2 linked regions of the Homo sapiens genome follow. The protein of the gene in region 2 interacts with the protein of the main gene of each other region in a pairwise test. Each region holds a gene or a part of one and is shown on either strand. Other genes may lie near its edges.

Evidence for each region. The genes of interacting proteins can lie anywhere in the genome.
Region 1: the proteins of INTU (region 2) and DAAM1 interact in binary tests that used the Homo sapiens proteins (3 or more experiments, as listed by UniProt).

What each region holds. Positions count from the first base shown.
Region 1 is NC_000014.9:59,324,667-59,331,702, reverse strand, and holds part of DAAM1 (disheveled-associated activator of morphogenesis 1), read right to left. Parts: intron 6,040-7,036; coding exon 5,973-6,039; intron 5,744-5,972; coding exon 5,626-5,743; intron 5,194-5,625; coding exon 5,055-5,193; intron 4,771-5,054; coding exon 4,712-4,770; intron 1,203-4,711; coding exon 1,015-1,202; intron 495-1,014; coding exon 195-494; intron 1-194. UniProt on the Homo sapiens protein: Binds to disheveled (Dvl) and Rho, and mediates Wnt-induced Dvl-Rho complex formation. May play a role as a scaffolding protein to recruit Rho-GDP and Rho-GEF, thereby enhancing Rho-GTP formation. Can direct nucleation and elongation of new actin filaments.
Region 2 is NC_000004.12:127,628,543-127,635,970, reverse strand, and holds the start of INTU (protein inturned), read right to left. Parts: upstream 3,015-7,428; 5' UTR 2,937-3,014; coding exon 2,791-2,936; intron 1-2,790. UniProt on the Homo sapiens protein: Plays a key role in ciliogenesis and embryonic development.

The DNA of each region.
Region 1 (7,036 bases), on a different chromosome or scaffold from region 2:
CAAAGTGACGGGTTTCAAACAATGTGTCATTTATTTCAGAAGCTTTATCACTTAAATATCTGAGCTAGTGAGAACTCTTGGTCCACATTAGAAAATGAAATCATTTAACAGCCAGGGCTGTTTTCCCTTTCAGTGATAACACAATGAGCTGCTAATGCTATCCATTAAAGGGAAAACTGGAACAAATGGCTCACCTCGGGCAGTTTAGACCAGTTGAAGGATTTCAGGGCATTTGTGGGCTGAGGAATGCTTTTCTTCTTCAGTGCTAGGCCCATTGGAGCACCAGGAGGTGGCATGATTGCCCCTAAGGGAGGAGGCCCTGGGGGAGGAGGAGGGCCACCTGGAGGGAGGGGAGGCGGTGGAGGGGGAAGCATCCCACCTGGTAGAGGTGGGGGTGGTGGGGGAGGAAGGAGAGATCCAGGCACAGAGGAAGGAAAGGGCCCTCCTGGTGCTCCAGGCGAGGGTCCACCTGGGATTGAAGCACAGACGGCCCTCTGAAAAGATAAAAATAGGAAAAGAAAGATCAATGGAAGAAGTAAATTCATTGAATGATTTAAGAGTCTGTAACTTGGCCTAAAATGTTTATTATAGAGAAATTCACCCTTCTGAGAATGTTTAAAGGATCGGTAAAGTCGAATGGACTCTTTTGGGCCTTTATGGACTCCAGTGCATCAACCTTTTGTACCTGACACTCAAGTACTTGTCTGGGATGCATTCATATCTCTCTCACTTCTTGCACCATCACAGACAGTCTGGTTTTCATGAAGTCAGTTTTCACTTTAAGAAGCTAATGCAATTTCCTTTGCTCTTAGATTTGTACAGTATTTAAAAATGCACCCCCAAACAGCCTCTGCTGCCTACATGATAGCAGAGGGAGTGAGTCTCCTAATTGTGATGAATCATGAGCCATTTCAGATTTTATTCCCCCAGTATGAAGTTCTCTACTTAAGGGTGAGGGGCTCTAGGGTCAGTGAGGCCTTGGCAGCTGCCCGTGAGCTGAGCGGAAGACCTCACCCTGCTGAGCTCATGGAGCTGTGCTGTGAGGTCCGCCACCTGCTGCTTGACTTGCTTATGCTCAGTAGTCTCCTTTTCAAGTTTCTCTTTCATTTTATTTAAGGTCTGCATCATCTCTTCCTTCTCTTGAGTCTTAGCATCACATTCTCGTTCTTTCTTTTCCAGTTTCTGTTGTAGCTCATTGTGCTCTACACGAGAAAACAATTGGACATGAAAACAGGAGAGTCTTCAAAGCTGAAGCATTTTCTCTAAAAGAAAATTGACTGAGGATGATGGCAGAGATTATGAGGATCTTTATTAGGTAAATATTATTCCTCTTCTCCATCAAAGGGAGCAACTCAAAGGCTAAATGATGTTTGTGCTTGGAGTGGGCTTCGGATGAACAATGTTATTATTAACTACGTAAGAGACTGAAGAAGAGAGCCTACACTCACAGTTCTAAACACAGAACAAAAGTTTGAGTGACTTCTTGTGGAGGAGAATGGTAACTGTTTGGTAGTTGATTCAGAATCTTGTCATTAAAATGGTCCTTTAGCAATACAAGGAAAAAAATAAATATTCAAATGGCCTCTTTTCACAAATTAGAAGTGAGACAAAGAGTAGTTCAGCTTTTATGAATTAGGTTTGCCAGCTCACATCCAACCAGCCGAAGGGCTGGAAGGGAGGGTCTCACCTGTGAGGAAGAGCTGCTGTCAGACCCAGGGTTTGTCCCCAGATGGAATCACTTCTCCCATCTCCCCTCAGAAGGCTACTTGAAGTATTTTATGCTTTCAGTAAACAATTATTAAGGCATATGAAAGCAAATGTTATCATCTCAGTATTAAATATCTTAAGGGGAGTGGGGTCAGTAGAACGCGAAAATCATGGTAACACAGGGGAGAAAAATATTGACTCTTAGCTGTAGTTTTACTGACTTCCTCAATCCTGCTATAATAAAACAGGGCATCCAATTCAGCATAATGCATATTCACATTGCCAATGAATACAAGCTTGCTGAAAGGAGTGATGAGTTTTGGAAAAGAGAACTAACAAAGTTTAGGCTGCGGATTTTTATTTCAAATACATGTCCCCAATTCCTATTCTTTTTATATCAATAAATCCACTAGAGGTATAACCCACTGGGGCCGAGCTATACTAATAGAGCTGGTCTCTATTTCTGAATTTGCTAACACATTTAAATTCTTGTTTTCTCTGTCTCTGACCTTCTCTCTCCTGAGTTCCCCCAAATTAGAGTTTACAGAGAGGAGTTCAAGCCACTAAAATCCCTGGATTTTGTCAGCAATCCACTTCTACCACTCTGTTGTTGCCTCCCTAACTTCTCCAGAAATACATCCAAAAATGACCTCTCTATATCCCATTTTCCTTCTTTTATCTCCATTTCATTCTTCTTTCACAATTTCAGGACTAGAAACTTGCCTTCCTCTCACTGGTCATTAGCTTTTGATGAAGCTGGCTGTGTCTCAGAATTACCTGAGAACTTTCAGCATTTCAAGACTCCCCAGACACTATTCCAAGAAGTCTATTTTGTAGGTCGACTACAGGGCTTAGATGATCCTGATGTATGCCAGGTTTGGGAAGCTCCAGCCTAAATGACTCTCTCCACAAATGGTATCTATTTACCATTCAGTCACTAAGCTTTTATTGAGCACTTCCTGGGTGTGCTGCCCTAAAGAGAATTCTCCCCAAATATTCTCTACATTTTAGGTCCACAGAACTTCTGTCTCCTTATCACTTCTACCCTTGGACTATTTTAACAAAATATGCCCTCTTGAATACAATTTTGCCACCTGAAGCTTCTAGAAAAAAACTAACATTTAACTATAATCTTTCCTCTTTTAGACTCTACCCATCATTTCACTTTAAAACACTAAAACAACCTGTTCCTCCCACTGACATTGGTGATTTTCTTTTGTACCATCTCAGCCACCTAAATCCTGCAACAGTGGCTATCATTTATTGTGCAACTAGTATGTGCCAGACACTATGCTAATGATCTTATATTTGTTTTGTCATTTAATCTTCACAACCACGCTGTGAGTCAGGATTAATCCTCAGGTTGCAAAGGTCGAGACTGGGGGAGAAGAGAGGAAATCACTTAGCCCATCCACACAGTGAGAAAGGGGGAGAGCTGAGACTCAGACCCAGAGCTCAGCACAGTGCCTGACACATACAGGCATTCAACAGGTATTCACTGAATGAACGAATGAATGAATGACTCGAAAGCTTACATCCTAAGTGCTCTCCTCAACCTGCACACTTGAGTCTCCATGCTCTAGAGTGTATTCCTAAAATATCCACTCATTGACTATTTTCTCTTTGGTTTAATCTCTTTACCCTGATTTTTAGTCAATGTTTCTATCATTTTTGTAGCAGTTTCTGAAATTTATTTTTTAAAATGCATGTGCAATGTCACTTATTTGGGAGCAATCTGAATACATATGAGGAACTCGTAACATAACAGTAGTTAGTTCACAATTGGTATTTTCTGATATCAGTTATGGCCCTGCTTTTCTGCTCAGTGGAAATGTGATGAGAGAAAAGGAAATGCTTAGGCATCTCTGGGACCTGCTTTTCAGCACATTAAATATTGGGGTGAATGCTATTGTATTTCATTGGCTGTGAGTGAATAACTTGGACAAGGAAAAGGAAGTCAGTTAACCAGTATGGTGAGAGCATGGTAGCTGGCAGTATGATTATTTCCACAAAGAGGCCAACTTCAATTTGTTAATATTTTAAAACAGGAAGGAAAATTACATACATTTCTCTGTATGGCTGGTACACTGATGGACATAAATGTCTCTCCTATCATTTGATACTAAGAGATAATATCAAAGACATATTCAAATACACACTAATAGCTGGCCAGCTAATGTTTCGTAACACATATCTCAGCAATGGTCACTGATTTTCTGAATGACTTCTCTTTTTATAACTGGTACCAAATCAAGGTCATGGACAGAATTGGGTTATTGAAACCAAGTAGGCCGGGCGCGGTGGCTCACGCCTGCAATCCCAGCACTTTGGGCAGCCAAGGCGGGTGGATCACGAGGTCAGGAGATTGAGACCATCCTGACTAACATAGTGAAACCCCATCTCTAATAAAAATACAAAAAATTAGCCGGATGTGATGGCGGGCGCCGGTAGTCCCAGCTACTCGGGAGGCTGAGGCAGGAGAATGACGTGAACTTAGGAGGTGGAACTTGCAGTGAGCCGAGATGGCGCCACTGATTCCAGCCTGGGTGACAGAGCAAGACTCCATCTCAAAAAAAAAAAAAAAAAAAAAAAAGAAACCAAGTGACCTGTTCTTCTCTTTTAAAATTTTGGATAATTCCTCAAGTCCCTTATTACATTTCTTAAAACCCAGTATGATTTAAAGAGCCATGACGGAGTAGGGGAAGGGTTTGAATTATTAGTAGTTAAGAAAATTTGATTTAAGGAATACTGAACAGCAAATGCTATAAGCTTTTCAAAACATTTACATGATTATAATAAAAGGATAAAATATTTGAGAATCAGTATGACAACTAAAATAGCTCAATTTAAGAAACTCAGTGCAAAATGCCCTTAAAAGATGGAAAAAGAAAGGCTGCCTGCACCAAGCTAACAAGAAACATCAATGTAAATTTCCAAAATATATGGAAATCAAGGTCACCCAATAACCAATAACACAGCCTCTTATCAGGGCCTCATTATTTACCTTTTCTCATTTTTTCCGCTTGTTCTTTCCACTGCTTAACTTCATTTTCATTAACCAACCTGTGTAAGAGTTCAAGGAGCATTTATTACAAAAAATATAAAAGGTCCACTGCTAACTGCATTCTCCCCAGGTACAAAAATAGTCTACTGCAGAGAAAATCCTCAGTGCATGCTTGAAACCCATTTAAGACCAGATGTTACTTAGCTATAGTGCATGTGTACAGTAACTCATATTTGACCCCTAGAACATTTCAGCTCTCCCAGCTGTTACTCTGAAGTAGGATAAAATAAATATCTTACATTGTCACCATTATCTCACAGCAGCAGAATAAGAAGAGACTTACATTCGTACGACATTCTTAATATTAAAGTTTTCCAAAGGTGTGGAGTCAGGGTCCTGTCCTTTGTCATTCTGGATAACTATCTGCTGTATAATTCTATCTAGTAGTAGCCAGTACTGAACAGTGTTGCCACTCCTCTTGTCTAAAAAAGAAAAGAATAGTGAAAAAAAATCTTCAAGTTGTTTCTAAGCTAGGATGAATATTTGTCAATGGTGGTCACCCTTTAAAGCCACCAAACCAGAGATGTTTATAACATCTGCACCAATGCTTCCCAAAGTTATGGAATTTTGACATGCAATGATCATTTATTTGATTGAGAGGTACCCTCTACCCCTTTCTGAACAGGTTGTAAGGCATATTTTTTATTTTTAAAATCAAAATTTTAATTTGTTTCATTTAAAAAATTTTGTAACACCCTTTAAGCCATGTAGACACACATACTTGGCTGTCATAAAACCAAGGCTTGGAATCCCTGGTGTGCACCCAATGTAATCAGCACTGTGCAGGAGCCAGAACCCATTAGGACAATGTCCAAACATTCAGAAGCACACATGTGAGTCACGAACACACTTACAAGGCATTTGGAGGCAGTGGTGCAGGATGGACATGAAATGCGGGTAAGCTTCACTATGTGTCAGCCTCTTCCTGGTCAGCTCAAACATCTGAGTTGCACTTTTTGTGTCTATGTGAACCTATTTCACAGGAAAAAGAAATCAAATCAAACATCTAAGTTCCTCAGTTTCCCCAGTGTAAAGTAAACTCAAAGCAAACAGAAGCTAATCCTGCCACTTAGGAAACAAAATAGAGCTTTGAGTTTGCTTTTAGGTTGCCCTAAAGTCCATGTGGACTCTACAACACACATTACAGACAGAAATAATGTGAACTGATGAATCAAACCAGAATAATTGTAAGCATACGTACCAGTTCAAATCTTTTGGCAAATTCTAGTTCATCTTCATTTCGGAGCATTTCAAAAAAGTCTAAATGCCTGAAAAATAATGAAAGAAAAGTTATTAAGTAGAACATCCTATAAACACAGGTGCATAAGACTGAGGACATTAATATCATGGTTTTTCCTGACTTTTCAGAGATATCTCAAAAAGGAACAATGTAACAAAATTTGAAAGCTTCAACTTTGTTCTTTCTAAGAAAAAAAGACATCACCTGAGCGAAACAGATCACAATATGAGAAAAATTTAAAAGTCTACGATGCCTAGCATACAGTAGGCAATTATTAAATTAAAACTAAATCTAAAAACAATCAAGTTCAGATTCCACTATGGATTCCCTTTATGGAAAAACATGCCCATATACCTACACTTAACTTCCAGCTGAATTAAAGATCACAAAAGAAATGATCATGCCATTCATTTATTCAGTCACATATGTATTGAGCTCCTACTATGTATTCTACACACCCAGGATACATTTTATGAAGACAAACACATCAGGGTAAAGGAAATAGAAAATGATGGCAGATGAGGTGAATAATGTACACACAGTGGTTAGAACAGGTCTCTCTCCAGGGAACTAGGGAACCAACAATTTGGACATCTGTGAAAGATCTTTTGAAGCTGAGGAAACAGCAAGCGCAAAGGCACTGATGCAAGAGTGTTCACAGAATATCAAGAAGAAGAGCATGTTGGAGTATATGAATATACAGGAGAGGAGAGCCGTGGTAGAGAAAAGCTCTGAAAGCAAGTTGGGATAGCTTAGACTCAGTGAAATGATAGCAAACGATGAAATGAACAGGTAGTGGAAATTAACATTCACAGAATGCCTATCAAAGGGGCTAAGTAATTCCATAGGTTTTATAGTCAATTTTTACATCATTCCTGGAAAATCACTGTCATTATCATCATCACCACCAGCACTATCTTTTGCAGTTATAAAAACAGCAAAATTCAGAAAAATTGAGTAACTTCACCAGGATACACAGGAATAAGAGGCAGGACTAGGATAGGATATGAATTCAGGTCTAATGC
Region 2 (7,428 bases):
ATGGGGGCAACAACATGGATGAATCTCAAAGTAATTATGCTGAATAAAAGAAGGCAGACAAAAAAGAACATTCATACTGCACAATTCCATCTTTATGAAACTTTAGAAACTACAAACTCCTATAGAGTGACAAAAAGCAGATAAATGGTTATCAGGAGAGGCATAAATGGACTTAAGTAGGTACATGGGGAGACTCTTAGGCGAGATGGATATGTTCATTTTCTTGACAGACGTATACATGTTAAAACATCAAATTGTACATTAAAAATATGTGCAGTTTTTTGTATATAAATTATCCTTCAATGAAGCTATTTTTAAAGTCCCAGAAAAAAATTTAAAGGACATACCTCCCTTCTCCAGCCAATCCTTGTGTTTTAGGTGGAAGTTCCTTAGCTTTAACAGCTAATATCTCATTTAAAATGATTCCTGTTTCTCTCCATCAGCCAGTTTTAAAACTGATGTAACAACAACAAAAAATTCACTTTGAAAAATTAAAAATCCAAGTCACAACATTGACAAACTCTCTGTAACATGAACTAGGCATATTAGCTGGTAACTTGGCATTGTTGCAGGTGAATGTGTGATTTCTGTTATCTTAATGCTAAAACTAGCTAATGGCTCCCTCAACCCAACCAACCCACCAGTATTATCTCGGAAGCCTCCCAGGGTATGTGCCCATGTGTCAACTTAAGACATACTGCAGCAATATAAACTCTTATTCTCTAACAAACCTAAAACAAACCTATTAAAAGAACTCTACCAGAATTTACCATAATGTAATTTTATCTCCAAGATGATAAACTTTTAAATTCTATATTGACAATCACATACAGCTCAGGTACAAAGCATGTATGAAACAGTAACTTCTAAAAAGAACACGCAGTTAACTAAAACCTTGAAAATTCAGGATACTTTATGTGAGTCAATATGCAGTACAACTTCCTTAGTAAGCTTCACGTAGTCCATGAAATACAATAGGAAATTCATGTCTTTGCTTTAATGAGAAAGACTAAGGTTGGCATTCCTGTGCCTTTGATTAAAGAGTGGTTCTGTACAAGTTGGGAAGGCCACTGTTTGTAATGATGACTGCAGCTTAGGGAAGTAAACATCTACCATAAGGGAAGAACCGAACATAAGCCTTCCTGGTAAGTTCAGCAAATTAACCCTCATGTCCTACAAATCAAGAAGGGACAGACTTAAAATTTGAAACTTGGTAGGACTTGAAATACAGACCAGCAAAACATCTTATGATAGGGATTTTCTATACTTTTATTATTAGGAGGATAAAGACACTAGAACATGTGGCGTGATTAGTGACATGTGAAAAGCTTAATGATCATTTTTTAAAAGCTAAAATATAACATACATACATGTATTTTGAATCATGAAATACTTTTATTCTTTTAAGTGACAAGTTCTCCTATCACAAGGTCCTCAGATTGGTCATTTCCTAGGAAACAAAGTTCACTATTTTAATCCCATCAAAGTCATGGTGGCCCATTAGGTATCAGGCGTCTTGAATTCTCACACTGACAACACTCAGCTGTGCAACTATACATGAATCATAGATTCTTTCTGGGCTAAAAGTATGCGACTCTAAAATGTGGAGAAGCCAAGAGTTTGAGTCTTACACTGTCTATGGCTTCACATACCAAGACCAAATAAGGTTCTATGTAATTCATATTTCCTTCCAGCAGCCTTGTGTAATAATCATGAATTTTAAAATTATTTTTTTAATGCCTACAGCAGATTACAAAAAAATACGATATTTTAAAATTTGTTTAAGTCTTCAAGAATGTATTAAACAGGTTTCCCCACCATACTTTTAAAGGCAATGATAAAAATCTTTTACATACTGATAGGTAAAAACAATTGCCAAATAACAGTTGCTCCTACATACATATAAATGATTTGTAACTGTTGTTCCTAAATACACATAAAATGTCATCCTAAAACTGACCAGGTATGGTTGTCCATTACTGGGTTAGTTGACATTTTGGCACCAAAACTTTTTCACGATTAGTCATTCTCTTCAAGCTACTGCTAGTTGACTTTTCTAAAGTTCTTAATCCATAGCAGTAAGGGGTAGATTTTTCTTAAAAATGAAGTAGCACTGAATACTGTGAATCAAAATAACCTTTTCATGGCATTATTAAGAAAGTGAAACCTTTAGGTATCTGTATTTTTAAAAATTAAATTATGACGTAAAATGGAAAACAAGAAAATCATGGAGATGCATAGGAAAATACAGCAGAAATATCCAGAAGTGCTGAGAGGTTGTCCTTGATGGTGAGACTATGGGTGGGCGTTCCTTCTGTTATATAGCTATTCATTTCCATAACAGAAAAAATCTACATAAATTTAACAACTGCCTTATAAAACGCGTAGGGTGTCTCTCCACTCCAAATACTAAAGAGATTAAGCCACAAAGGTCACACCAAAGAATCAAGACACTGCGATCGAAACAGAGTTTTTTGAACGCTGTTACAGATATATCCTCCTATGGCCTAGACAGAGCCCATGACCAAAAAGAGGAGATTCTCCTCATCTAAGAATCATTGAAAAAACAAAACAAAACAAACAAAAAACAACCTACAGTAGCAAAGAATGGCATCGTCATTTCTGCTCACACCACCATACAATGGAACGTGGTGCAATTAAATCCCACTTATTATAGAACCCCAAATACTCGATTCCAACCACGCCAACACCCTTGCAGTTCCCCCAGCCCACGTGTATATTCTCTGGATTGATGGGATGGGATTAATTGTCCCTCTTTGAAAACCTTACTCATAATCGCTACTCGCTGAGGAATATGAACCCGAGTCGCTGACCCGATCTTCAAAATCATAGTCCTCATCTTCTTCTTGTGAAGAGGGGTCTCCAGGGAGCTCGTCTGAGCTCGGACGCGAATCGCACGAAGCCACAGAGGCCATCGTCAGGAATGCAATAGCTACGAGTGGAGTAATTCAAATCTCGCAGCTATAGCTTGCTAAGGCCGCCATGTTGCCTCTGCTTGGGAAGGGGCAGAGGCCATGTGACCACCAATCCTTAGCTGCAATTGGTGGCAGGTCGCGTTGCCAGGGAGACGGAGAAGCTTCCCAGAAGAAACAGGGAGAACAGAAAGCAGCCAATGGGCTGAAACTTCCAGGAGGGCTTCTCAGTTGGAAGGATAGAAATAGCTAAAACTTCACCGCTTACGCTCTCCGGAACGCAATTCCTTAGAGCAGCATAACCTGTTAAAACAGGCGGAGATGCACTGGGCTTCTCACCTTTTTCTTCCAGTGCTGGATATCCAGTTTGCTCTTTGTCCTGTGTTTCTAATGCCTAACAGCTGTCGGTCAGCCTGGATTTCCTTCGAGGTGAAGGAAACCGCACTTTACCTTTCCTTAGGACCTCATCCGTGCAAGTAATGGACGCTTTTAAGCAACGCGATCTAGGTGTTAATGTAAATACGCTCCATTGTTTTATGGGTTTCATATTGTTTCGCAATTGCAAACATTTTCACGGTTATCCCAAGTGGGTATTGTAGAGTGCCACAAATGAGTGGCAATCCTGTGGAATCAACTTCATGTTCATTTTCTAACTCAAAATTTTATAATCTAATTAAGTGTTCTCATTATTAAAGTTGGAAGTGTAAACAGGTAAAATCTACCTGTTATTTATGAATACCTATATCAAGTATTTTTTAAGTACAAAAATAACAGCTAGCATTGATTGAGAGTCAGCCTTGGCTCTGCTCACTTTATTCATATACAATGCTGAGCATTCACATACTATGAAGTAAATATTTTCTCTATATTAAATAAGGAAACTAAGCTTTAGAGAAGTTATGCATCTTACTAATGGTTACATGGCTAGCAGTCAACAAAGTCAACCAAGAAATGAACCTAAGTCAATAACCATTACATGAAATTTCCTCCCTCAGAACCCAGTAATTCAACTATTAGATATCTACTCTGAGAAAGGATGCAAATTTATAAAATTTGTAAAAGTGAAAAGCTGAAAGCAATCTTAAAATGTCAAATAATGGGGGAAAAGTTAAATATATATAAAATATGATGATTATGATTTTAACTAGAATGTGTTCAAAGAGTAAAGCATGGGGGAAATGTTCATGTTGCAGCGTGTAAAAAAAGGATATAATGTTATTTTATGATCTAAAAGGCTGGGTGCTGGGGATTCTCTAATGGGCAATTATAACATAGTGATAAGTATTACAATAAATACAAGGTTCTAATGGAATATCCAGAAAAAACCAAAGTAGTATACGTGGGGCCATGACAAATTTCTTAGAGGAAGTATTAATTTATATTGTTATTATGGCATGGTTCCAACAGAGAAAGAGTAATGGGAGATGAGTCATCACATGGCCGGTATGGGTATATGCATGGAGAACTCAAAGGAACCTGAATTGTAGCTGTTGCAGGGGCAGAAAAACTCTACCTCCATCTTCTTAGGGTCCCAGCTGGGCCTGAGAATTAAACTTACCTAAAATAGATTAACAAAAGAAAAGCAACTGGAACTTGTTATACAGATGTTGAGGCCCTGCTCCACATCAACAGGATCAGAATCTCCAGTGGAGGGGCCTGGAAATCTCTATTTCAAACAAGTGCCCCCTGTGATTCAGCAAACTTGGGGAACTGCCCTAAATTTTCTCTCAGTTCTGTGCTTCATCTATACAGGCCAACTGGCCATTCCCTGAATAGGCTGGAACCCACTCCCACCTCGCAAATTTGAGCCTGGCAGACAGACCTCTCTCCTTGCTCTAGAATCCAAGTTTTACATGGCAGGGGAGCCCTCATAAAGAAATGAAGACCCAAAGAAGCAGTTAGAGTCAGTTAACTTATATACTGGATTGGACAAAGAATAGTTAGTTGTGAAGAAGCAACTAAACTAAATTGGGAAGCTTAAAAGATAAGTTATTTTAACAAGGTCTGTACAGAATTCTCTTGGTTTCACTTCTATGCCCTTGAGAATAAGAATGTTACATTTTTCTAGTATAGGGAGGGTGTCTTTCACATGGGAGCTTCATCTGTTGCTTTTAAGAAGCAGCACAAAGGCACTTGCTGTTTTTCAAGTGTATTAAACTTAAATGGCCAGGATAGTATATTTTACCTTCCTCACAGCCAAACAAGCTGCAGTATGCAGCTTATACTTTTAAGCTGAAGTTTAGTTGTATTTACATTAACTGTACATTACATGTACAAATATACATTAAACTATGTACATTTGAATTTGTATATTACATGTACAAATGTACATTAAACTATATACATTTGAATTTCCTAGGTTTTATGGTTTTGTTTTAATTTCTAAATGTGTTTTTATAGTGTTATAACAGCGATTACATTTTGTAATTTATTTGTATTAATTCATAAAATTGTTTTCATCTTATATAGGAGCTATAAAGCACAGATTATACCTCATTTATTTAAAATTATAATTAAAAAACTTAAGTCATCCATGGAAATCCACAATAGTTTTTCCTTAAAAGAGGTCTATATGTTACTAAAGTTGAAGAACAGGAGGAGGAGTTTGTAAAGGGGTAATGGGCAAAAGGAGTGTCAGAGGCATTTGAACCAGAGCGACTCCATCTTGAATAGGGGCTGGGTAAAATAAGGCTGAGACCTACTGGGCTGCTACTCAGGAGGTTAGGCATTCTTAGTCACAGGACAAGATAGGAGGTCGGCACAAGATACAGGTCACAAAGACCTTGCTGATAAAACAGGCTGCGGTAAAGAAGCCAGCCAAAACTTACCAAAACCAAGATGGCTACAAAAGTGACCTCTGGTCATCCTCACTGCTCACTATACGCGAATCATAATTAGAGTACAGTGAGCAGTGAGGATAATGAGCATTAGTTGCTAAAAGACACTCCCATCAGCATCATGACAGTTTACAAACGCCATGGCAATGTCAGGAAGTTATCTAATATATTCTAAAAAAGGGAAGACCCCTCAGTTCTGGGTACTACTCCCCCTTTCCCAGAAAACTCATGAATAATCCACCCCTTGTTTAGCATATAATCAAGAAATAACTATAAGTATACTCAGTCAAGCAGCCCATGCCGCTGCTTTGCCTATGGAGTAGCCCTTCTTTTTTCCTTTACTTTCTTAATAAACTTGCGTTCAATTTACTCTATGAACTTGCCCCGAATTCTTTCTTGGGTAAGGTCCAAGAACTCTCTTGGGGTCTGGATTGGGACCCCTTTCTGGTAACAGGAGGTCCTTGAGGTGGTAGGAGGGGATAGCATCCAAGGCACAGAAGGAGGGATATGACCTCCCTGGACACCTCTTCCCTAAAACTAGAAGAAAGAGCCAAAGAAGGGTGCTGGTGTGGATGGTGACTTGCCAGTTTCAGGCAGGAAGCTGAGGCAGTCTCCATGTGACAGTGTTTATCGTCTGGTAAGTAGGCTGCAACCTTGCCAGCTGAACGTGATGGAGGAAGTAATGGGGTCGGAAGTTTGAAGAAAGTGGAGACAGGAAGGAAGGGAAACAAATATTTCCATTAGCATTGAGATCCAACAAAAAATGTATTACTTTTAAAATCAGAGAAACAATATTATTTTAAAAAGCTGGAGTCCCTATACTCATTATTTTGAGTTTCATGGTAAAATATATATGCTTACTTTCACCACAATCTTAAACATTAGAAATGATTTAAGATTCCATTTCAAAATAAAAAGTGCTTTAGTTACCTCTTTAATAAGTTAACCTTTCCTTGTTTTAAAAGCAACTTATTGGAAGTAAAAAATAAAATAAGAAATTAAAAAAGGACATTTACAAATTTTAGGAAAATATCACATTTTCTTCCTACAAATTTTTCATCAATTTTTTTTTGTAAGCATCTAGTAGTTTCATACCCTGCCTCATAAACCTTGCATGGCACCTCCTTAAATAGAGAACAAAGTCCAAACTGTGTAGCTTCTTTTAAATTTTTTTCTCCAATTCTACAAACAATTGAACACCAATTCAGAATTAAATGGTTTATTCCATGTTACATCGTAAGTTAATCAAGCTGATCAACTTGTCTATTCAAAAGAATCAACTGGAGCTTGTTATACAGATTTTGAGGCCCTGCTCCACATCAACAGGATCAGAATCTCCAGGAGAGGGGCCTGGAAATCTCTATTTTAAACAAGTGCCCCCAGTGATTCAGCAAACTTGAGAAACTGCCCTAAACTTTCCCTCAGTTCTGTGCTTCATGCATACGGGCCCACTAGTCATTCCCTGAATAGGCCGGAACCCACTTCCACCTCCTGAATTTAAGCCTGGCAGACAGACCTCTCTCCCTGTTCTAGAATCCATCATCCACGTAACCTTGAGCAAATGACCTCCACAAGCTTCACTTTCCTTATCTGTAAATTCAGAAAATGGTACTTACTTCACAGGACTGTTTGGAATCTAATGAGTTAATGCATGTAAA